4 linked regions of the Homo sapiens genome follow. The protein of the gene in region 2 purifies or fractionates together with the protein of the main gene of each other region. This does not show direct contact. Each region holds a gene or a part of one and is shown on either strand. Other genes may lie near its edges.

Region 1 (7,034 bases), on a different chromosome or scaffold from region 2:
AAAGCCCAGAAAAGTTAAGCAACCTGCTCAAAGTCACACAGTTTGAAAGTGGCAGAGCCAGGATTCAAACACAGGCTGTCTGGTTGCAGAGTCTGGCTCTTAGGCATTATACTATGCCACTTGATCGTACCATTTCCCCCTCTGAGCTTACTACCGATTTCACTAATTATGACATATCCTGATTAAGCTGACTAATTTTTCATGTTTAATAGCAACCCAGCCTGCTTCTAAGCTCTCTAAGCACAAAGACTTAATCTATGGCTTCTCTCAAGCTACCCTCTCAGTGCATTATATAATAGTAGCTGTTGCTGACAGATAACTTGACTGATCTGCTTACTATCTTCCACAAATGCTTCTATTTGTTGGCATTAACAATTTCACATCTGTTTCACAAATGTGCAGAAAAGGGTTCATGTAGTAGGCCTGAGGCTGCTATCCTTAGAAAGGCCTGCTTGCAAGGTTAACCCTTGCCTGGCATCTGAGAAGTTGGACTTTGGCAGAGTTCATGCCATCCTAATTGATAAAAACAGCTCGCCGTGCCTGAACTGTTTTGCAAAACATGCGGTTTGAATGCAGTTCAGTGCTGAGCACCTGCTTTCCTCCTGGGAGTCTAGAGTTTCGGTAGATGCCAGGTGTGAGGTGCCTATGTGACCAGCCCCTAACAGAATCCTTGGGCAATGAGTTACTAATGAGCTTCCCTGGTAGACAACACTTCACGTGTTGTCATAGGTCACATGCTGTGTGACTCCACTGGGAGAGTACTCTTAGAAGCTCATGCCTGGTTTCCTCTGGACTTTTGTCCCACATGCCTTTTCCTTTGCTGTTTTGCTTCGTATCCTTTCAGTGTGACAAATCATAGCCAGGAGCAGGACTGTATGTTGAGTCCCATGAGACCTCTTAGTGAATCCTAGAACCAGAGAGTAGTGCTGGGGACCCCTGACACAGTAAGAATTTAAAAAATGTGGGCCAGACATGGTGGCTCACGCCTGTAGTCCAGCACTTTGGGAGGCAGGGGGATTGCCTGAGCCCAGGAGTTTGACAGCAGCCTGGGCAACATAGTGACATCCCACCCTTATAAAATAAAATTAAAAAATAGGCAGACATGGTAGCACATGCCTGTAATCCCAGCTACTCGGAAGGCTAAAGTGGGAGGATTGTTTGAGCCCAGGAGGTCGTGCCACTGCACTCCATCCTGGGAGACAGGGTGAGACCCTGTCTCAAAAACAAAAAAAACAAAAAAAAACAAAAAAGAAAATGTGTCCCCAAACAGTTATGTGATGTTATCTTCTGAAAGAACATCCTAAAACCTTTCTAAAGCTAGTCTAGAAATGGTCCAGGTTTGGATACTTGCTCACTGATGTATTCCATCTCCAAGACTGGCTGAGTTGCAGCGGGAACGACTGTGAGGACACAGCTCTTGCATTCCAGATGCTCATGTGAGCCCAGAGGGGAAACCAGGCAGGCGCCATGGAAAATACAGGAGCCTGGCCCTCCTGCTTCCTGTGGCCTTGGATGAGTCATTTACCCTGCTGGAGCGTCAGCGTCCTTACCTGCTGACAGGGCTCCTAATAGTGCCTGCATGGGACAGGTAGTGGGGTTGGAGGGAGGTGTGCACTCAGAGCATGTGGCATCGAGCAAGTCTGTCACAGGTGACCTGAGGACAGCCTTGTGGTGGCCTGCTTGTTGTGCCCTCGCTCTTCTCTCAGGAATACACTTTCAGGGACGACAAGAAGGGGTATGGGGGTCAAAGAGATTGAGGTAAAATGGCTCAAGATGTGCCAGCCTCATCGGGTTAAGAGACAAAATGGGCAAGAGCACAGATTTTGGACCAACAGCCTAGGCTCAAACCCCAGCTATGCTACCTGTGGGACTGTGGGATCTAGGGTGAGTGGCCAAGCCTCCTGAGCCTCAACTTCCTCATTTGTAAAATGAGGGAGGAAACAGTACCTGCCTCATGGGGGTTTGTTGTGGGCCAATAAAGTGGCTGGCATGCTGCCTGGCACACAGTGAGTGCCCGGTAGCGCCAGCTATGGCATTTTGCGAAGAAGTTCAAACACGGTACATTGCATAGGGTAAGTGCTCTACAAACTTTAACTGCTATTATTAGTAGTACTATTATTAATTAAGAAACACCAATGAAAGCAATACTTACAATCTTTTCTTATCCACCACTCTTTTAACTCGGATGGCTCTCTGTTCTGAGTAAAGTTTACATACTCCTGTTGCAGAAGAAAATACCAGAAGAGAGACTGCTTAAAACAGCTTCTCAGGCAAAGCCATCATTAAATATAATGAGATACTACAGTCTTCAGCTAGCAAAGCTAAATTCTGCATCACATCTATTGTGAAATGTTACATTTGACCTTTAAAAGAAAATGAAATACTTTTCAAGTAATCTTCAATGAAATCCAAAACAGCGGTCCTGTGCTCCTTCACTTGCTGGGAATGTATCTCCTTGTGAGCTGTAACAGAAAAAGACAATGTTCAGGCCTTCGCACTCAATTATCCTAAAGAGCAATTCATCAGCTTCCTCACAACACTTTCTTTATTGAGAGTATTTTTTAAAACACAGCTATAAAACAAGTCTTGTGCCAAGTGACACTACATTTTTAAAACAGTAAGATGTATCAGGCTTCGCAAGAGTGAAAGATTAAACCTGTAGAAAATCTATAGTCAAATAATTTATGGTTTATCAGAACACTTAAGGATAGTATTTGACGCAGCCACTTCTTGAGTGCTGACCCCATCTGTGTTAACAGCATCCAATGCTCAAGCTGACCTTCAGCGAACATGTTTAAACAACTGAAATCACACACTCCTCCCTGCTTGAACCTGTGCTGCTTTTCAGCCTGTAGTGCCCCATCCTCTCCCCTTGGCCACTCACATTCTAAGGGTCCCTTAGACAATGAGTCAAACTTTCTGTCTCCAGGAAACCTATGACTCCTAGCCACAAAGATGCCTTTCTCCTGGGAACTACCACACAGAAGTGTGCTAAAAGGCCTTACCAGACCTAAAGTCTGTGCCACTGGTTTTGGTAAGATAGTGACCACTGACTGAGAGACTGAGTGCCTACTGCGTGCAGGTACTCTGCTAGCACTTTACATATGTACTGCTAGTAATTACAATAGCAATTCCGAGTTTCCTGATTTTTACACGTGAAGAAACTAAGGTTCAGAGGCAATAAATAGCCCAAGGTTAGATGGTTTCATATGTAAATGTAGGTTTTGTTAAATATTCCTGTGCATTTTTTAGGTCTCTCAATGAATGTATATGCCCTTAAGGGTAGAGGGCATGATTTCTGCCTTACTATAGGGCTGCTTAACCCAAGATTTGTGTGGGGGACTCAGGAGCTCTGTGAAATTGCATATAGAATTTTGTGTATGTACATTTTTCTGGCAAGAATGCCTATTGCTTCCATCAGAGTCTCCAAGTGGTCCGTCAGCATTCTAATAAAAACCTCCCCAACAAAAGTCTGTGTTGTGAGCACAACAGCATCTGGCAGCTTTGAACTCTACTTACTATTTAATGTACTCTGTAAATGCCTAAGCAAATTAAAAAAGAATCAAGAAAGAGGCGTGACTTGGGAAGCCATCTCATTGTCTCAGTGAGAATTAAACATCAACGAAAGTGAGATAATAAGCGCTCTTGTGCCAGACACAGTTCTAAGCATGCTGTAGGAATTTAACTTAATGCTCATAACAACCCTAGAGATACATTCCCTAATTGTCTGCATTTCATAGACAAAAAAACAAGGCCCAGGGAGATTAAGTGATTTGCAGAGGGCTATATGGCTCGGACGGGTGGAGTTGGGGTGCAACCTAAGCAGCCCTGGCTCCAGAGCCTTCCTCCTAACCTTGAAGGTTTGATAGGAAAGTTTACTTGAATATTACAAGTAGAGCTTAAGTACCCCAGGCTGCTGTCAACTCCCATCCCACTAAATGCCACACAGAACAGAGGCACACATGTGCATACACACATACACACCCACACACATACAATTTGCCACACAGAACACACACACACGCACACACACACACACACACACACACACAAATTTGTCTTCACTGCCCCTGGCCCCTAGATATATTTTTGGTTCTGTTTGGAGAGGTCCTTTCCATCTCCCTCCTCTCATTGGTTTAACTTGAATGATACAGCCTTTGCAGTACTTTTAACAGCTTTGGTTAAAACATTGATCAAGAAAGAAAAGATTTTAACGTTTTAAAACCTAAATCGAAATAAGAAGAGGGAATTTTAACTGGCCGCACCATATGCATCTTGTTTAACTACTTGCTATATTCATGGTTGCTTGTTTGCATCTTTCAGAGCACTTTACCTTCTGTTCGTAGTTGCTGAATTGCTTCTGAACAGGTCCTCATGAATATCTGGGCATCCTGGTCTATCTGGTCTCGTTCTGTGTCTGTCATCCTCCCATATTCAGACATGGTATGGCTAAAAAAAGACAGCAAAGGAAAGGGCAGCAGCAAATGAGAACATAATATAGTCTGAGTGGGATGGGAAGAGAAGAAAAGGCCTCCCTGATCAGGTGACATTTAAGCTGAGACTTGAAGGGTGAGGAGGAACAGGCCAGGTGAAAAGGTGAGAGAACCATCTAGATAGATAGTAGAACACATATGAAGGGTGTGTGGTAGAAAATCCTCCGGAATAGACCCAACTGACGTAAGCCAGATGGGGAGAGGGAGAGGGAGAAGGAGCGTGGAGTCAGGGCTACAGCATAAGCCAGGCTTATAAAGAATGTAGGCTCTGCTTTTGAGAACAATGGCGCAGCTACTGAAGGGTCTCACACTACAAAATGACTGAATCAGAGGGTGGAGGGTGTTCCCTAAACATTCCAGGCACACTCCCACCTCAGGACCTTTACATGTGTTGGTTGTCTCCTCCTTCTGGAATGTTCTTTCCCCAGATAGCTGCATCAATGCATCCCTTACTTCTTTTAGGTGTTTACTCCATGTTGCCCTCTTAATGAGGCCTTCCCTAATCCTTCTTTATAAACTGTCCCCTCCCTGACATTTTCTATCCCACTTCCCTTCTTCCTTCCCCGTAAAGATACTTACCCCACTCTAACATTCCATATATTTTGTGTAATTATTTCTTTTCTTGCCTGTCTCTCCCCTCTAAAAACGTAAGTTCCACAAAGGCAAGGACTTCTGTTTGTTCACTGCTGTATCCCCATCATCAAGAGCAATGCCTAGCATTTTTAATAGGCTGATCAATTAATAAATCAGTAATAAATACTTTTGAATGAACTGAACCAATGAATGAGCCTGAGTTGGAGAATATGCTTGATACACAGCTACGACTGTGCTCCCTAGTAAGTTCCTCCTAAACCGATTTTTCCCCCCACCCCAAGACAGGTAGGCATCCCCCTCCCAAAGCCTTCTCTAGGAAACTTAAGGCACAAACAAACAGGGAATACATCCATCCTGAGGACAGGCCCTTCTAAAAAAGAAAGGGGTAAGATGAGCACGAAGTCCTTCTCACTCCCAATCACCAGATAAGCATCCTCTCCTCCCTTGGAGTCACCCCTATCCCACGGCCCCTACCCCACTTCCATATTTTCTAAGGAAGAGTTGGAAAAAGAAATCCCACAGCCTCCAGCCTCCTAGGGAATAGATGATCCTCTCTCAGTGGAACTTGAAGAGTGACATGGAATTAGTTCCTTATTCCAATGCTCCTTAGGATCTTGTTCTATTAGTTACTTAGGCTTGGGATGGCAACCATGAGAGAATGGACTCTGTCCGAGGGAAGACCCAACAGTGAGACAAAGGCGCTAAGCCAGCAAGCTCGATCCCCTCTCCCCAACCCCAGCCCACCTCCAACACCAGATGAATGGCTCCCCTCTGGGGAGGAGCCAGAGTGGCAAGCAGAGGGGCCAAAGCCTTAGGTTCATCCCTACTAGGAACCTTCTCATCGGAAATAGAGGCTAACGGGGTCAGGGACAAATGAGTCAGAAAGGTACCAACTCAGTGAATATGTACCCTGCAGACAGAACAGACCTAGAAATGACTAGTTCCAAGAACATTCGATTAACATCCTCCTACTCTATATTTTGATTTAATGGAAACTCAGCTCAGTGAAATTGAAAAGGTCTAAAGGTTAATTTGATAAAACTGATTATTTAATTAAAAGGTAATGTTCCTTTAGGAAACATTATATATATACATTAACCTTCTAAATTGAAAATTGACAGTATGGTTATTCTATTAGTAAGAACAACAGAAACCAAGGAAGTTTTTTCTCCCAGATTGTTTTGTTGCCAGGATATTGTGGAAAAAGTCCATCTACCAGAAGTGGAGACATTATTTTTAATTAAAATCATTCAGAGATCTAGCCACAGGCTATCTAGGTTACATGCTGTTCTGCTCTAGTAAAATGTCATTATTAAAAAAAAATTAAATGGGTCAATAAAGTCTGAGCTCTACATTCTGGAAAAAATTACAGCTTCCTAATTATGTCAAACTAACAAAGCCTCATAGGTCTGAAGGCAGTATTTCTACACATATTCTTTCAATTCCATGATCATACTCCACATAAAATGTTCCTAGGAGCAGGCCAAGGCTAGCACATTGCACTGGGAGGGCAGAAGAGTAAAAAAGAAAGGCTTTAAGCAGTCTACCACCTTTGGGAGGGAGAACTTGATGAGAGACAATAAGGGTGGTCTTTCTCCACCTGGACAGAACCTGGGCTACCGGGGGGAATGCTTATTCCCTAATCCTCATGTTTCTGTGGGAACCAACTTCCCCAAATGACACCTTGCCTCCTCCCAGAGCCTCCTCCCTCTGGCCCCCTCGCAGAAAGCATGGGGTGTGCATATAGTCACCACACCTTTCTCTCCTCTCTTTTACCTACTTAGAGACAGCAGAGGTTCCGCTCTGTTCCTCTCTCTCCTATGTTGCAAAGGGGCCTGTCCCTGCTGTCTGTGCTCCAGGGGCTGCGGCTGCGCAGTGGCACTAATGCCTGAGTGTGTCTAATTCAAGAGCAGAGTATCAACAAGGCCACCCGCCTGCAAACCAAAG
Region 2 (7,034 bases):
TCGGGAGGCTGAGGCATGAGAATCATTTTAACCCGGGAGGTGGAGGTGGCAGTGAGCCAAGATTGCGCCACTGCACTCCAGCCTGGGCAATAGAGCGAGACTAAGTCTCAAAAAAAAAAAAAAAATATAAGGAATCATGGGAAAGACATTTTACATACCTCTGTAACTTCAGAATGTAGACAGTGACTACCAAACCGATTGTAATGCATAAGTTTGTTTGTTTGTTTTTGAGACAGGAGTCTCACTCTGTTGCCCAGGCTGGAGTGCAGTGGCATGATCTTGGCTCACTGCAACCTCTGCCTCCCGAGTTGAAGCGATTCTCCTGCCTCAGCCTCCTGAGTAGCTGGGATTACAGGCGCCCACCACCATGCCTGGCTAATTTTTGTATTTTTAGTAGAGATGGGGTTTCACCATGTTGGCCAGGCTGGTCTTGAACTCCTGACCTCAAGTGATCCGCCCACCTCAGCTTCCCAAATTGCTGGGATTACAGGCGTGAGCCACTGCACCCAGCCATGTAATAAGTTTCGGTGAGTGAGTGGAGTGAGGGCTCGTTGGAGGATGTGGATGGATAGATGGATGAATTAGAATTGTGGTTTGAGACCTTTTCTTCTTCTCTTTGTCTTCTTTCCCCTTTCTCATGCCTCCAGAATTAAAGATTGTAAAGAAAAATAAAGGGACATGTTTTTAAATATCTTAGCGATATCTTTGTTTTTTTTTTCAATGATGACACTCTTTGTGGCCCAGACCTTTTTAAACTCCCAAGGATTCAGATTTTGAAATTCCAGGTTTGCAAGATCATCTAGTACCTGCACTAGATTTTTAACTTAGGATACTCCAGGATATGCTTTAAATCTGTACCTTCTAATATGTAGCCACTGGCCACATGTGACTGTTGAGCACCTAAACTAGGACTAGTCCAAATTGAGGCATGCTGTAAGTGTGAAGTACACACCAGATCTTGAAGACTTAGTATGGAAAAAAAGAACGTAAAGTATCATTAATAATTTCTTTTTTTATTACATTTTAAAAGATAATATTTTGGATATATTAGATTAAATAACTTAAAATTAATTTTACCAATTTCTTTTTACTTTTTTATTATGGTTACTGGAATATTTAAAATTACATATGTGGCTTCTGTTATTCTATATTTCTACTATATTTCTATTCTATCAATATTTCTACTGAATATATAGAGCATTTTTCCCTTCCCTCTTCACTCTTTCTCCTACCCCCTTACGTTTTCGATCTAATCTCTTTAGATAGTAATATACCTAGTAATGTATCTTCCAAATTGCTTAGGGTGTGTGGTATAGTGCTGCTTTTGAAATGGAGCAGTTAAGTCCCAACCTGGGATCTCCAGACTCTTAACAGTACTTAAAAAAAAAAGAGAGGGACTAATAAAAAACATATTTGTCTATAAAGAAATGCACAGGCTATGTGAAAGGTAAGGTCATAATAAACCCAGCTGGAATTGTGTTAAATCTGTGCAGGATACTGATTGCCTGCTTCTGAACTGTGGGTATGGTTGGCTGTGGATAATGTAGAACATGTAAGAAATGATGGTCTGCTGCATGTACCAGGCCACATCTAAGAGTCTTATTGTTGAGCACAGCCACGTTTACACTGAATATAAACTTTATTCACCATTCCAGGCCTTGACCTTATATTCAGGAATGGCAGCCTGGCATGGTGAATAGAACTTATTAGGGTGCATCGTAGATTTGCTCAGTAGGGGCTCAGGAATTGACACAAATGCTGACGGAGTTGGAACAAGTAAATTATATGTCTGGAAGATAAATATTTAAATAATTAGATTAAGGGTGGAAATGATAAAAGTGTACTTTGTTATAAAGATTGGAGATCCCAGTAAGAGTAATATGCTCTATGAAAAATTGTAAGTTCTTATATTACATTATTAGTTTATGAGTACTTGTTACTGTTTTCACATTTTTGCTTATACTCATACAGTACTCCTACTTTGCTATACTCACACTGGTTTATCTCCCAAGCCTCAGGTAGATCATGCTTCCCTGACTCCCCCAGACAGGTTTTTCCTGTACCCTCAAAACATTTATCAGTGTTCTCATTTTATATTTATGTGTAATTTTACATTATGTTCACCTTTCTCATAAATTTTGCCAGATCAGGAACCGTGTCTTTGGCCACTGTTACATCCCCAGAACGTTGACTAGTGTTTTATGAGTAGAAGATGCTTTGTGAACATTTGTTTGGTTAATTAGGTACCAGTTTGGTAGCCAATATATGATACTAAAGGTTTATATTGTGAACGTGGAACTGTATTGAAACGTTAATGTTATTGCTGCCATCCCCAGGGCAATAGTCTGACCTTGATTGACCTTCCCGGCCATGAGAGTTTGAGGCTTCAGTTCTTAGAGCGGTTTAAGTCTTCAGCCAGGTAAGAAGGAAAGAAGTGAAGTGGGCTTGTCTAGGTCTGTATCTGTATATCAAAGCCACTCATGTGATTTGCTCTGGTGGTGTTTGGGAGGCAGCATGGTATCCTGTGGTAGACCTTGAGGTGACCTTGGGGTCAGCCAGTTCTGGGTTGCAAGTCCACCTTCACCTGGATGATGAGGATTTTATGGGATTAAAATGCTTAAAAAGTGTTTTTTAGTGTTTAGGAAATGTTAACCCTTCTTGTCATTGTTACTAAATGTTTGCATTTATTCTGAAGGTGAATTTAATAATGTATATGACTATTAAAATCTGAAAAAAGAATTTTAAAGCTGGGATGAATCCTAGCAGTTTTTAAATGCCAACATCATTTATATATATAGTGTTTTTTTGTTTTTTTTTTTTGAGATGGAGTCTCACTCTGTTGTCCTGGCTGGAGTGCAGTGGTGTGATCTCGGCTCACTGCAACCTCCACCTCCTGGGTTCAAGTGATTCTCCTGCCTCAGCCTCCTGAGTAGCTGGGATTACAGGCACGCACCACCACACCCTGCTAATTTTTCATAATTTTAGTAGAGATGGGGTTTCACCATGTTGGCCAGGCTTGTCTCGAACTCCTGACCTCATGATCCGCTGGCCTCAGCCTCCCAAAGTGCTGGAATTACAGGCGTGAGCCACTGCACCTGGCCCATATATATTCTCAAATTACGTAAAATTGATGTTTCAAGAAGTACAGAACAATATTTCCATATTTCTTTTAGTGTGTGCTCTGGTGTTACTGACTCTTAAGTTCTTCCCTAAAAAGTCTTATGCTGCAGTTTCAGATGCTTCTTTTTTGGTCTCTAACATTAATAAGAACTGAAGAGGAAAATCAGTATGCCACATTTCACTGATTTGAAGACACATTTTAATATCTCTGAATTTAGAATATATCTTATAGTTGATGGTGTCATAGTTTAATTGGCAGTATTTTCTCTTAGCGGTCCCTAAAATAATGTCTTTAATTGGCAGCATTTTAGTTTTGATGGAATGAAGTAGTAGATTCTTTGCCTTTTATTGAAGATGTCTAGACTGAAATTTCATTATTGCATCTTTGCCCACAAGATGGTGGTGATGAACAATTTGTCACAGATAAGAAAATTCCTTGGACAATTGAGACAAATCTAGAGCTGGTAAATTTTGCCATAATTGGGTTTTTATTTCCAATTAAATGTTTTTTCTTTTTCTATTGCCAGTTCTAAATATTTTATGATTTGCAGTATAACTACTCTGTGATTCATGTATTTTGGGTAAATAAAACATGCAAAATATGAAGATAAAACTTAGTTCAAATAAATTATAATCATGATAACATGCAAGTTGAAAAGACATTTACTATATTGGTATGTGACTTTTTTTTAATCCTACTTTCTGGCTTCGCCAAGTTTCCCTAGTGGCTATTTTCCCTCTCCTGATTTGAACATATGCTGTTGCTGTTCTTATCATGGTTCCCCTCCCCCATCTTTTAAACATTGCCTATTTGATTGTCTGAATCCAATAATATCAGTTTCCTTTTCCTGAACCTTAAACACTTTAACTTTCATCTTCCTCACATCTTCCTTTTATTTATGCTCCTTTTTAACCCCCATCCATACTTTTTTTTCCTCTTACATTCAGTGATGAGAATTACCAGGATGCTTATGGTCTTTTGCTCCCCATTGCTTCTTGAATTTTACTTCTTCCCTTTAGATTCAGTTTTCCCTCACTGAGTATATCTTTTAGAAGTGTTTCCAGAGAGGGTGATGAGTAGTCAAATGTTTTCAGTCTTTGTTCATTTGTAACTCTATTTGGCCAGCATTTTGGAATGTCTCTTTTAGCTGAGTGCAGAGTCCTGGGTGGCAGCCGCATCACTCCTGACCTCATCCATCTGTTGCAGATGAGAATGTTTTTGCCAGTCAGTCTAATTGTCATTTCACTGTAGTAAGTCTGCCTGATTTGACCTTCTATCCAGGGATAGATTTTCTTCTGTTCAAGGATGGATTTAGCTTTATCATTCTTGGAATTCAGTTGTGCTATTCCAAACCAAAGATTCTCCTCAGTTTTGGAAAATTCTCACCATCGTTTCTCCAGGTAGTGCTGTTTCCCCATGATCATTTCTCACACTCTGGAATTCTTATGAATGTTATTGAACCTTATTATTTTTGCCTTTCTTGTTTCCTCTCTATCGTATCTTCCAGATCTTTCTACTTCGCATATTGTAAGATTCCCTCAGATTTGTTTTCTAGTTTATTACATTATTTTCAGCTGAGCATGATCTCTGCTTAACTTTTCCATTGATTTATTAATATCATTTACTATATTTGTCTAAAATACTTACCTTTTCAAACCAGCCTGTTTCTTTTTATACTATTCTATTTTTTATTGTAGTTTGTAGTATTTTCTTAAATAATTTTAAACATTTACTTTATAGATAGCTTTATTATCTTAGTTTTGGGGTGCTGATTATTCTCTTTGGGGTACCAGTTATTCTCCCTCATAATTATTTTATTCTGTGCCTTGTAATTTTTGCTCCAGAACCTTTCTTCAAGAGTGACACATCATTGATATTGTGGTGGTTCTTTAATCCCGTAGGATATGAAAGCCTTGCTCCATAAGCGGTTCATAGTTCCTTCTGTTGGGGCCATAGGGCTTCAATAAGTCTGGCCCAATTTTTATGTAAGCCTTTCCCCTTGGGGGTCTTACACCTGGAGAGAGTATAAATTCATACCCTATATCTGTGTGAGGCAGTGGAGGCCCGCTGTTTCTAAGGGAACTTTTTTTGCAAGCCCCGACCTCCCTGAGACTATTTTAAGTTGTAGGCTTTGTGCAGGGCATTCAGTTCTAGCTCCCCAGCTGCATGTTGGCCATTGCATGTCTCTTATCTCCACCTGGGCATTCAAACCCTTGTCCATAAGGCTTGTATTTTTTTTTTTTTTTTTGAGACGGAGTCTCGCTCTGTTGCCCAGGCTGGAGTGCAGTGGCGCGATCTTGGCTCGCTGCAAGCTCTGCCTCCCAGGTTTACGCCATTCTCCTGCCTCAGTCCCCTGAGTAGCTGGGACAACAGGCACCCGCCATCACACCAAGCTAATTTTTTGTATTTTTAGGAGAGACAGGGTTTCGCCGTGTTAGCCAGGATGGTCTCGATCTCCTGACCTCGTGATCCGCCCGCCTCGGCTTCCCAAAGTGCTGGGATTACAGGCGTGAGCCACCGCGCCTGGCCGGTTTTTTTGTTTTTTTGTTTTCTTTGAGATGGAGTTTCGCTTTGTCACCCAGGCTGGAGTGCAGTGGCATGATCTCAGTTCACTGCAACCTTCGCCTTCTGGGTTCAAGTAACTCTTCTGCCTCAGACTCTCAAGTAGCTGGGATTACAGGCTCCCGCCACCATATCTGGCTAATTGTTATATTTTTAGTAGAGATTGGGTTTCATCATGTTGCCCAGACTTGTCTCGAACTCCTGACCTCAAGTGATCTGCCTGTCTCGGCCCCCCAAAGTGCTGGGATTACAGGCGTGAGCCACCGCACCCGGCCCCCTAAGACCTGTTGTCTGCAGTTTCCCTGGGCTGCTGCACTTTAGCTTTGATATCTCTTTGTTTCTGTCACATGAGGAGTCCCACTATGGCTGCCTTAGTTCAGGCCCTACCTGGTCACTGTGCTTCTAGTTCAAGCGCCCTCTAAGATTGCTTTGTCTTCCATTTAGGCACCAATATTCTTCATAAGACAGAAAAGCATGAACTCCACAGGTCATTGTGTCACGCCTCACTGTCTGACTTGGTTCTCCTTCATTTCCCCATCTCCCTGTGTACCAGCTTACCTTGACTTCCCCAGGGAATGTGTTTCACGTATTTGTGGCTTGAACATACTGTAGGCTGAGTATCCCTTATCCAAAATGCTTGGAACCAGAAGTGTTTTGGATTTTAGACTTTGGATTTTTGGATTGGGGATACTCAACCTGTACTTTCCAGACAGCCTGTGCCCCAATTTTTGGTCTAGCTAAGATTCAACTCAACTGTTACATTCTCCTTAAAGTTGCCTTTGACCTGGTCTCATTTAAATGATCTTTCTCTTTATTCCTGTTACACATGTGCATAGTTTTGTCTTGGCATTTATCATATGGTTCTCTATATGATGATTTGTCTTGGAGGACAGGCATCATTTCTTACTGTCTTTTTTCAGCTTCAGTCATTGATACACAGTAGCACTCAATAGTTCCTTGTTAAATGAGGATTTATGTTATATGATAACATATGCACAGACCTGCATGTGTGTCTGCTGAGTGTTAATCACCAAGATTGACTTTGAAGAAGTTCAGGATAGTTTTTCAAGATAATGATGTCCTGTTACACGTTCACATGCCAGTTTTTCTTGTTTTCTCCCTCCAGGGCTATTGTGTTTGTTGTGGATAGTGCAGCATTCCAGCGAGAGGTGAAAGATGTGGCTGAGTTTCTGTATCAAGTCCTCATTGACAGTATGGGTCTGAAGAATACACCATCATTCTTAATAGCCTGCAATAAGCAAGGTGCCATCATGTTTTCTTGCAATAATAATTGAGTTTTTTGGGGATTGCTGCTACTAAGAATTATTTCCATTATTTACAGTTGTTATTA
Region 3 (3,492 bases), on a different chromosome or scaffold from region 2:
CGGGATAGGGGTAGTTGAGAGCAGAATCACCTAGCGTTTCTCACCTGTACCATAAAGATTGGTCATTGCTGACATGGAACTGACATACCTGTCCCCCTCTCCTCAGCTAAGAACGTGGCTGCAGACATTGCCGTCCAGCTCTGTGAATCTGTTGCCAACAAGTTGGAAGGGAAGGTGATGGGGACGTTCAGCAGTAAGTACTTACCTAAGTGAGAAAGTGCTTATGTGTAGGTTAAGTGCATAGACCTCAGTTCTTACTAGGTATGTGACTTTCGGCAAATTCCTTAACCTCTAAACCTCTGTAACCTAGATTTTAAGGGTTATTGAGAGGATTCAGTGAGTTAGTCCTTGTAATGTGCGTCTGTTCTGGATTTCTGGGACAAGAGTCTAATTTACTGTTTTAGTCCCCTTAGCTCAGAAAGGTGTTAGGCATTTTTGAGAGCATTCCTTGAGTTTCACAGCTGCAACCTCCTCCACCTCCCCTTTCAGCGGTGACTTCCACAGTAAAGCAAGCCCTACAGGAGTCCCTGGTGCAGATTCTGCAGCCACAGCGTCGTGTAGACATGCTCCGGGACATCATGGATGCCCAGCGTCGCCAGCGCCCTTATGTCGTCACCTTCTGCGGCGTTAATGGAGTGGGGAAATCTACTAATCTTGCCAAGGTCAGTGCAGTTCCCCAGCCTATCGCTGATATTTCTGTACTTCTTGTGTCTCAAAATCCTGGCTTTAGGTGACTTTTCTTACGTCTTTTTCACAGATTTCCTTCTGGTTGTTAGAGAATGGCTTCAGTGTCCTCATTGCTGCCTGTGATACATTTCGTGCTGGGGCCGTGGAGCAGCTGCGTACACACACCCGGCGTTTGAGTGCCCTACACCCTCCAGAGAAGCATGGTGGCCGCACCATGGTGCAGTTGTTTGAAAAGGGCTATGGCAAGGATGCTGCTGGCATTGCCATGGAAGCCATTGCTTTTGGTACAGTGCATGGGAAGTGTGGGGGCTTATTTGGGGTCCCTTTTTCTCCTTGGGTTCTCTTGGAATTTGCAGAAGATCAGGCTTGTGCTACTACAGACTCGTTGGTCAATTACAGTAAAAAGTCAGATCAGTTACTTGCCATGCTCTGCTTTTGGATAACAGATGTAGTTGCAGGCAAAGCTAATATACCTTAACCAGAGAAACCTGAATTTGGTCACCTTCATCCTGTTGTCCTCCTTTTCCTGAATATGTTTGGTGATGGCCAAGCATATAATCAAGTTTTTCTCACATTACCTTGGAACCAAATCCAGAGCCCAAGACAGTGAACAGGTAGTCAAACTAGGACTTTTTGAGAGGAAGCTGGGAACGAGCATGAGTGGTAGTCCAGGTGTTCAGAGTTGACTACTTTCTTTCTCTAGCACGTAACCAAGGCTTTGACGTGGTGCTGGTGGACACGGCAGGCCGCATGCAAGACAATGCCCCTCTGATGACTGCCCTGGCCAAACTCATTACTGTCAATACACCTGATTTGGTGCTGTTTGTAGGAGAAGCCTTAGTAGGCAATGAAGCCGTGGACCAGCTGGTGAGAGCGTGGGCCCAGTTCCCTTTACAACTTGAGCTTTGGTCAATTTAGATGGTTCTTACACTTCTATCACTTTTTCTTTCCAGGTCAAGTTCAACAGAGCCTTGGCTGACCATTCTATGGCTCAGACACCTCGGCTCATTGATGGCATTGTTCTTACCAAATTTGATACCATTGATGACAAGGTAAACGTGAGACTGGAGGCTGGAATGGGCGTCCTGCACAAAGGAGCTGAGGCTGCAAGGAAATCTTGGCTCCAGCGCTTCCTGTTCCTGAGAGGGTGAGTGAAAAGTGGGCTTGTGTTGATGGGCTGTCCTCTTTCTCCACTTAGGTGGGAGCTGCTATTTCTATGACGTACATCACAAGCAAACCCATCGTCTTTGTGGGCACCGGCCAGACCTACTGTGACCTACGCAGCCTCAATGCCAAGGCTGTGGTGGCTGCCCTCATGAAGGCTTAACGTGGCTCTTGCCCAATACCAAATCGCCGCTTTCCCCACAAGCCCTTCTTCCTGTATCAAGAATGTGCTTTAGAGTATGTGAGCAACCTGTCTTCAGTGTAGTACAAAGGCAGAGTGAGGGGGCTTGTGGCTCCTTCCAACCCCACTCCCCGTTCAGCACAGCCGCCATCTGCAAGGAAGGCCTAATCATGTTACAATCACTGCCCACTGACCCTCTCCCAGCGGGCCTCCCCCTTCCTACTCAGGCACCCCCTTCACTCTGCCTACAGACTCAGTCTTATTACAGCTTTGACCAATGGTTGGAACCCAACACCAGAGCTTTGCTAATAATTAGTGTGGTCAAGAGCCGTCTGAGCCTAATGAGTCCCAGCTGCATTAGGTTAAGAGACTCTTCCAGAGCCAGCGCCAGGTCTTGAATGGCACCTCTCCCTAGGATACACAGCCTGCAGGTCCCCAGGACCTGGATGACACCCGCCTCACTGTGGCAGTGTATTGCCTGTTAATTGCTGCTAATTCTAATTCTGATGATGACTCCTACTCCATTGTTTACCCCAAAGCATCAGCTAGGCTGGAGTGATTTGTTACAAATGAGCAAAAGATGAGTCCTTGCTTCCCTCAGAAATAAAAGGAGCTCAGCTGCAGCGTTGCATTGGGCTTCTTGGCCTCCCAACTCTTCCCACTCCCAGAATCCAGAAGTAAGCTCTGCATGTTCCCCTTCCTGGGAGGAAACCAATTGTCAGAAGGATGTATGATGACCCCCTCCCCTCCCATCCTTCACCTCCTAAGCAGTCCTGGCTTTTCCTCATCACTCCCCTCTACAGTGCCTGGTAGACAAGTGCTACATTGAAGAACACAAACCTCTTGTTAAGACTTGTCCTGTAGCTTGATATTACAGATGTGCTATTAGTGCAATAAGGTGAAGGCTGTCTGCCCAGAGAAATAAGTAATTTATATAAGAAAATAAATTTCATAAATAAATTGCCTTTTAGGTCTTGGAGTTCTTTTATACAGGATTCAAAACTAAAATTCCACAACACACTTAACTGTAGTTCTAGGACATATGTATGGTCAGGACAACAGAGCAGAAGTTGATAATGCTCCGAGGAATCAGGTAAGTAAACGGTTGTCCTGAGAATGAGATCACTCCACCCCAAGGAGAAAGATCGGAACCTTTAAACTTTGGGTTATTAAAATTAAGCTTATTAGTACCTTGATGCAAGTTAGAGTTTCTTACAATGACTCTAAAAGTAGAGCCAGGGTCCTGGCAAGTAAATGAACAAGCTTTTAATACAGCTTAGTTATGTAAAATACTGTACACTGTAAAAGATCTAGAAAACTAGAGCTTCAAGTCATGTTTTAAAAAAGCCATTAAGCTTAATTGAAAAACCAAGTATAGAGTACAAAACTGCAACAAGAGCCACAGTGATTCCATGGCATCCAGACCCCGAGTCCTTCATGCAGAGCTGCAGCCGGTCAGT
Region 4 (7,034 bases), on a different chromosome or scaffold from region 2:
CTGCACCTGTGCGGTTGGGCTCTGGACCCAGGTGACCACCAAGTGGATGCCCACAGGGTGAAGGGGTCTCGACTCAGCACCCCTGGACATGGGCAGGGGCCCGCGCCTAGCCACAGGGAGTAATGGGGCTCCTCTTGTGGGGTCGTGACGATTAAAGACGGGGTATGTGAGACCCCAGGGGCCCTGCTCTGAATGGGGGACCTGTCACATTGAGGCCACTGTGAGGCTGCAGTGGAAGGAGAGGCCCCGGTGGCCTGGAGGCAGGAAGCACCCCGGGTGGACAAAGGGGAGCCCCAGGTAGTGTTTCCTGGCTGGGGCTGAGGGCTCTGTGTCCCACCTGGGAGGAGAGTGTGGCTCCGCGGGCTTGTGTGTCCGTCGGTCTGTGGGTCAGTCAAATACCCAGAGAGCGGGCAGGCTGCTCCTGGCACTCCAGGTCTGTGGGGAGACAGGAAAGGAAAGGCCCACCCAGTGGCCGAGTGTTGGGGTGCCCTGAGAGCCTCGGCCAGAACATCCAGGAAGCTTCCTGGAGGAGGCGGTGAGCACGGCCCCAGGCTGGGGGAGGTGCTCCTGTGGGTGCAGCCGTGTGTGGGCTGACCCGGAGGAAGGAAGGGTCATAGGGGTGGGGTGACTCCTGTGCTGGGTGGGCAGGGCCTCCTGGAGGTGAGCCACAGCCAGTGGGATGGGGTGGGGTGTCCAGGCAGCTGGAGAGCGTGTGGGAAGGCCGTGGGGCTGGAGCATGTGGGTGCCTGCTGGGGAGCCTGGGTCAGGGACAGGGTCATGGAGTGTAGGGGACTGGACCACCCAGGGCATGCGAGTGGCTGAGCCAGGTTGCGGGCAGAGGGTGGCCAGGGGCCCATGGGAGCATTTGCAGGTGAGCTCCCTGGGGAGGGTTACTGTGGGCGTGGACGAGGCTGCCTGGGCGTGTGGCTCAGGGCCGGGCCTGGTGAGGTGGCTGCTGCAGGGTGGCTGATGACAGACAGGTCTTGGGGAGGAGGACCCGGGACTCGGGATGAGCCTGCGTCTGGCTGGGTGGTGCCTGCTCCTTGTTTTGTGGTGGGAGACTGAAGGGGAGCTGAGGCTTTGGCGGCAACGGGCCTTGTCCAGTGGGGCATTTTTCTGGTCATGCTCAGTCAGGGAAGAGGGGCCCTGAGCTCGGTCAGCACGGAGCACCTGATGGGGCAGAGACACAGTGACGTCTGAGTCATAGCGTCTGGTGGACTTGAAGTCTTTGACTGGAGTGTGTGCACATTGTGTGAAAACACTGGTGCCCTCTCATCACGTCCGCTGTCTTCATGGGACGGGTCACTCACACCAGTGCTGGGTGTGGCAGGATGTGTGTCCTGTGCCCTCTCCCGCTGACCCTGGACCAAGCTGACCCTGCCCAGGGCAACCCCAGGAGCTGCTCTTCCCCGTGGGGCCTTAATTGTGCAGACTGGCACTGCCCTGGCCCCTCCCTCCTGGCCATGTGACCTCAGCAGGTCCAGGTCTGTCGGGACCTCTGTGTCAGTTCCTCGTATATAAACCAGGGATGGTAACAGCCGTGCGTCCCTTGTGAAGCGTTGGACAGCCCCGACCTCGGCCCACTGTGTATCAGCACTTTTTGGAACATCTTGGCACAGGGTCCATTGCTGTCCTGGGCACAGCTCCTGCTGGATGTGTGGGCCTGGAAGGCAGAGCGTGGCCACCAGCAGCATCCACCATGGGCCTCGCGGGCCCCTCTCTCCTGAGAGTGCTGAGCCGAGGGGCTGTGGGGTCAGTGTCTCTGACCGTGACCCACCACTGGGCCCAGCCTCCGTGGCTCCTGTCCCCAGATGCCATATGGGGAAACGCTAGGCTTTGAAAGCATCTCAGGCTCCGGGGCTGCCCCCCTTCCACACTGCCCTCCCTGTCTTCCCCAGGACACAGGGGAACCCTCCCCAGCAGAGGGCCCTGCCCCCTCCCCCCGCCCACCCCTCATTTGTAGCTCCGGCGTCTGTGGGCGGGGCCTGAATGCCTGGCGGTCAGGGTTCTGCTCTTGCCTGTTTCTGCTTAAATCTCAGCGCCGGGCCAGCCTTCATCCCCTGCGGCTCTTTTGGCTGTAAGGACTAGAAATGCAGTTCAGATCAGCCCAAGGGATTCTCCAGCTCCTGGGGCTGGGGAGTGTGATGGGGCTCGCCCCAGGTGCACGTGCGGCTAGACCCAGGGCTTTATCCGTGCTCAGACTCAGGGCCTCCCACAGGTCACAGCACTGCGGCCGGGCTGGAAGTGGGTTGCTTTGCTGACTCGGCCCTTTGCTCAGTCTACAGAGGGTTCTGGAGAGGAGGCCCCAGCTCACTGTGGGCGTGGAAGAGTTGAGGCTCCTGGTGGTCTTGCCTATGGCTGTGCGGCCACAGGTGGCTCACTGCACCCCGGGCATTGGTGCACCTGCCAGCAGGTCACGGGTCACGGAGGGGCCCTGTGCTCCAGGCTCTCTGGCTTGTGATTTTGAGTCTGATCAATTCTTCCCTGAGAGTCTGGGGTTCCATGTGGCCGTGGGCGCCCCCTTGGCCCAGCTGGGTCCTCAGTTTTGCGGATCGGGGCAGCAGGTAGACGTGACCCTCACCAGGCTCGGGGGTGATGCCTGGACCTCAGGTTGGGAGGTACAGTGGGCAGCCAAACCGCCAGACGGTGAGGCGGGCTCCCTGGAAGAGGGGCTGCCCTGAACTGCCCCTAGAGGGGCCCCACTCTGAGTTGTGCCTGCAGCACGCTGGGGCGTGGGCTCCCCAAGCCCTGTGGACGTCGGGGTGGGGCCGTCCTGGGCACTGCGGGGTGCCGAGCAGCATCCCTGGCCTCACCCACTCCATGCCAGGAGCTCCCCCAATTGTGACAACCACAGATGTCCCAAGCATCCCCTGGGCAGGAGCCCCCAGGTGAGAGCTGCTGGCACCCCAGTTCATAGGTTGTGCCTCGGGCACGGCAGCCTCGCCCTGCCGTGGGGCGCTCTGCCCAGCCACGGAGGTCCACTGTGTCCCCAGCAGCTGCGGCTGGCCCCGCCAGGCCTGGGAGGGTTGCACAGGGCGCCCCGCCAGGTGAGAGAAGCTATTTTCAGGTGGTGAGATCAGGGGAGTGCTGGGGACGCAGCGGAAGGTGAGGCAGGAAGCAGCAGGTTGGGCTGTGGAGGGCTGTGCCCTCTTTCGTAGACAGTGGGTCCAGCTGGTGGCCCTGGGGTGGCGGCAACACCCATGCTGCTGCTTGCAGGGCGGGAGCCGTTGGCTGGCAGAGGGCCCTGGTGTGCTCCACTTGGTGGGTCTGAGTCCAGCCTCGTCTCCTCCCAGGTTTGGGGGGTCCTGTGTGCATCTGAGAGGGCCCCGGCCTGCTGGCTTCGTCCGGCTCACCCCTGAGGAGGTGCGGGGCAGTCACAGGCCTTGCCGAAGCCCCAGGGCCTGTCAGAGCCGGGCTGCAGGTGGCAGAGCCCCTCCGGGGTTGGAGTGGGGCGTCCCCCGGATCCTCAGTCACTTGGACTATGTGAGGGGCTGGCCCGGTGCAGTCAGCGTGGGAGGGACCCAGGGTCCTCAGAGCCCAATTCGGCTTCTGGGGTTTCCTTCCTTTCCCCGTCCTGGGCGTCCCAGCGCGCCCCATCACGCCCCATCACGTAGGCCCTTGGGTGTCGGCTGCAGCTGGCCCTGGGGCGCCCCACTGACTGCCGGCCGCCCCCTAGGCCCTGTTTGTGCTCTTCGTCCTGGCCTACATCCACATCGTCTTCTCCCGCTCGCCCATCAACTGCCTGGAGCATGTGCGTGACAAGTGGCCGCGTGAGGGCATCCTGCGTGTGGAAGTGCGGCACAACTCGAGCCGCGCGCCCGTCTTCCTACAGTTCTGTGACAGCGGCGGCCGCGGGAGCTTCCCGGGCCTGGCCGTGGAACCAGGCAGCAACCTGGACATGGAAGATGAGGAGGAGGAAGAGCTGACCATGGAGATGTTTGGGAACAGCTCCATCAAGGTGAGCCAGGCCTGGGCTCAGCTGCAGCAGAGGCCAGCGCCCCGTAGATGCTGGTCGCTGAAGGGGCGGTTCCTGACATCGACAGGATGTTGGGGTTCTTGACTTTCAGGGACCTGGCATGCAGACAAGGCCGCCCCTGCCTGCCGTGGCCTTTTGGTGGCCTGGGGGCTCTGAAGCAAGACCCTCGGCCTGTCGCCCTGCTAGAGGCCTGGGCAGGGCAGGGGGATCTCGGGGAGGACTTGGGCTGGGCAGACTCGGGCCTTTGAGAGTAGCTGTTCCGGGGAGGGGATTGGCTGGGGCTGGGGATGCAGTGGGCAGCAATAGCTGAGGAGGCCTGGGGGCTGAAAGCTAAGAGCTCTGGGCCCATCCTGGCCGTCCTGAGGTGGCCCCACTGCCTGCAGAGGTGCTGGGTTCCCGGTCAGCTTGTGGTGGCCTTGGGCACTGGTGGGACCAGGTGGCTGTGTTGGGCCCCACAGCCTGGTGGGAGATGTTTTTGCTTCAGCAGTCAGGGTTTGGGGTCCCACCTGTTCCCACAGAGCCAACCCCAAGAGTTTGAGTGTTTGGGCAGAGCATCATGGACCCTTCCATGGGGTCTACTGCCTGTAGCTGGCCCTTGCCTCAGCTTCAGGATTCAGAGCTGTGCTGGAGATGGCCTCACAGCAGGGCAGGCTTGGTGTTGAGGTGGGGTCCCAGCTGAGGCGGGAGGCACACGTAGTCCACCCTGGCCTGGTCAGTGGTGGGGCAGAGGCTGAGGCTTCCAGTCCCTTCCCATTAGCAGGACTGTATCCTCAGGCTGGGCCCTCACAGCCCGGGCTGGCGCTGCTGACACCCAGGTCCCTGGTCGCCCACAGTTTGAGCTGGACATCGAGCCCAAGGTGTTCAAGCCGCCGAGTAGCACAGAGGCCCTGAATGACAGCCAGGAGTTCCCCTTCCCCGAGACGCCCACCAAAGGTAGGCCACCCACCAAAGGTGTACTGCCTCACGGGGTTGCCTCAGTCATGGGGTGCTGGGGTGCAGGCGGGGTCCCTCCGAACATCCCCAGCCTGCTGGCTGCATGTCCTGGACCGTTGAGGGCACCCCCGTGCCTCGATTTCCCCATCTGTCAGCACAGGAGGCTGTGGGGACACCCCAGAGCCTGGGGTAACTGGCTCAGCTCATCCTTTCTGGGATCCTCGTGAACGGCGACTTGGAGGGGATGGATCCCTTCGGCTCTGAGCTCAGAGTTCTAGCGGGCTGTGCTCAGGGAAGCCCCCGCCCCCGCCCCCACCCCTGCCCATCTGGCAGCAGAGGGTCTATCCAGAGGGCCGGGGCCTCTGAAGTGTTGGGGGTGTGCTGGGGGCCGCCAGGGCAGTGGGGCAGCCCTGCACCCAGCCAGCCCCAGCCAGGGAGAGGGGGCCACGGGAGGAGGAGCCTGGCCAGCCTCTGCAGTGCACAGGGCAGGACACCAGCTTGAGTGGGCACCATCCCAAGTGTCCATGTAGGGGTCCTCCCAGCACCCACCTGGGGCCCAGGGCTCAGCAGGTCTCACCCTCCACCCCTCAACGCCTGCCTTGCCTGCTGGCAGTGGGCGGGGGACGTGTGTGGGGGCGCTGACCTGGTCCCTGGTTCTGCCCTGCAGTGTGGCCGCAGGACGAGTACATCGTGGAGTACTCACTAGAGTATGGCTTCCTTCGCCTGTCGCAGGCCACCCGCCAGCGCCTGAGCATCCCCGTCATGGTGGTCACCCTGGGTGAGTCTGAGCTGCTGGGCTTGGGGAGCTCCATGGCGGGGCCTCCCCTCCTCCCTCGGGTCTCCTCCTGCTGGTGCGGGACGGGGGGCTGTGCAGGAAGCACTGGGGTCTGCCCCGCCCCAGGCACGCTTCCCAGGGCTGGGGTCCTGGATGGGTTTCCTAAGAATGGGCAGGGCCAGGAAGCAGGCCAGGCCTCAGCAATGGAGCCAGCTGGGGCAGGGCCCAGGGGGTGGCCTGGGCGGGGCTCCCGGCTCCCTGATTCACCCACCCGCAGACCCCACGCGGGACCAGTGCTTCGGGGACCGCTTCAGCCGCCTGCTGCTGGATGAGTTCCTGGGCTACGATGACATCCTCATGTCCAGCGTGAAGGGCCTGGCCGAGAACGAGGAGAACAAGGGTGAGGCATGCCCCGGGGCCGAGGGTGCGAGGGCGCGGGTGGGGGCGGGCGCTCACGGCTCCTTCTGCTGCAGGCTTCCTGCGGAATGTGGTGTCGGGCGAGCACTACCGCTTTGTGAGCATGTGGATGGCGCGGACGTCCTACCTGGCCGCCTTCGCCATCATGGTCATCTTCGTGAGTGCCTCGGGGCGGGTGCGGGGGCTGGCCGGGCGGGAGCCAAGCAGGCCCTCGCAGCCCCTCATAGCGCTTCCTGCGCGCCCCTTGCAGACGCTGAGCGTGTCCATGCTGCTGCGGTACTCACACCACCAGATCTTCGTCTTCATCGGTGAGTGTCCCGCCGGCGCAGGGCGGGGCGGGCGTCCTCCAGGCCCTCACCGGGCGCCCGCCGCCCTGTGCCCGCAGTGGACCTGCTGCAGATGCTGGAGATGAACATGGCCATCGCCTTCCCCGCAGCGCCCCTGCTGACCGTCATCCTGGCCCTCGTCGGTGAGGACCCCACCCGGCCTCCCCCGCCCCGCGCTGCACCCCGCCCCGCCCGCTTCAACCGGCGCCGCCTCTCCCTGCAGGGATGGAGGCCATCATGTCGGAGTTCTTCAACGACACCACCACCGCCTTCTACATCATCCTCATCGTGTGGCTCGCGGACCAGTATGACGCCATCTGCTGCCACACCAGCACCAGCAAGCGGCATTGGCTGCGGTGAGCGTGGCGCGGGGGCAGGGTGGAGTGGGTGCTGGTGGGCAGGGGTAGGGGGCTGCCAGAGGGAGGGGCGCTGGAGGCGGGGGTGGTGGCTGCGCCACGCGGGAACCCCAGGGGCTGGGCCTGGCAGGGTGGGACCTGCAGCCCCGACGCCCTCACCCCGCCCCGCAGGTTCTTCTATCTCTACCACTTCGCCTTCTATGCCTATCACTACCGCTTCAATGGGCAGTATAGCAGCCTGGCCCTGGTCA

What was found.
Region 1: the proteins of SRPRB (region 2) and STX18 purify together in Homo sapiens (affinity purification with mass spectrometry; 5 studies listed by BioGRID and IntAct, with this or other methods). This does not show direct contact.
Region 3: the proteins of SRPRB (region 2) and SRPRA purify together in Homo sapiens (affinity purification with mass spectrometry; 8 studies listed by BioGRID and IntAct, with this or other methods). This does not show direct contact.
Region 4: the proteins of SRPRB (region 2) and TMEM259 purify together in Homo sapiens (affinity purification with mass spectrometry; 4 studies listed by BioGRID and IntAct, with this or other methods). This does not show direct contact.

The regions. Positions count from the first base shown.
Region 1 is NC_000004.12:4,455,039-4,462,072, forward strand, and holds part of STX18 (syntaxin-18), read right to left. Parts: intron 6,935-7,034; exon of another isoform or gene 6,868-6,934; intron 4,450-6,867; coding exon 4,334-4,449; intron 2,463-4,333; coding exon 2,385-2,462; intron 2,220-2,384; coding exon 2,153-2,219; intron 1-2,152. UniProt on the Homo sapiens protein: Syntaxin that may be involved in targeting and fusion of Golgi-derived retrograde transport vesicles with the ER.
Region 2 is NC_000003.12:133,808,781-133,815,814, forward strand, and holds part of SRPRB (signal recognition particle receptor subunit beta), read left to right. Parts: intron 1-2,336; coding exon 2,337-2,419; intron 2,420-6,809; coding exon 6,810-6,946; intron 6,947-7,034. UniProt on the Homo sapiens protein: Component of the signal recognition particle (SRP) complex receptor (SR). Ensures, in conjunction with the SRP complex, the correct targeting of the nascent secretory proteins to the endoplasmic reticulum membrane system.
Region 3 is NC_000011.10:126,262,438-126,265,929, reverse strand, and holds the end of SRPRA (signal recognition particle receptor subunit alpha), read left to right. Parts: intron 1-106; coding exon 107-193; intron 194-489; coding exon 490-662; intron 663-757; coding exon 758-971; intron 972-1,390; coding exon 1,391-1,554; intron 1,555-1,640; coding exon 1,641-1,739; coding exon of another isoform or gene 1,740-1,834; intron 1,835-1,885; coding exon 1,886-2,014; 3' UTR 2,015-2,992; downstream 2,993-3,492. UniProt on the Homo sapiens protein: Component of the signal recognition particle (SRP) complex receptor (SR). Ensures, in conjunction with the SRP complex, the correct targeting of the nascent secretory proteins to the endoplasmic reticulum membrane system.
Region 4 is NC_000019.10:1,011,116-1,018,149, reverse strand, and holds part of TMEM259 (membralin), read left to right. Parts: intron 1-3,676; coding exon 3,677-3,958; intron 3,959-4,791; coding exon of another isoform or gene 4,792-4,809; coding exon 4,810-4,909; intron 4,910-5,576; coding exon 5,577-5,687; intron 5,688-5,961; coding exon 5,962-6,084; intron 6,085-6,157; coding exon 6,158-6,258; intron 6,259-6,351; coding exon 6,352-6,409; intron 6,410-6,486; coding exon 6,487-6,570; intron 6,571-6,650; coding exon 6,651-6,783; intron 6,784-6,954; coding exon 6,955-7,034. UniProt on the Homo sapiens protein: May have a role in the ERAD pathway required for clearance of misfolded proteins in the endoplasmic reticulum (ER). Promotes survival of motor neurons, probably by protecting against ER stress.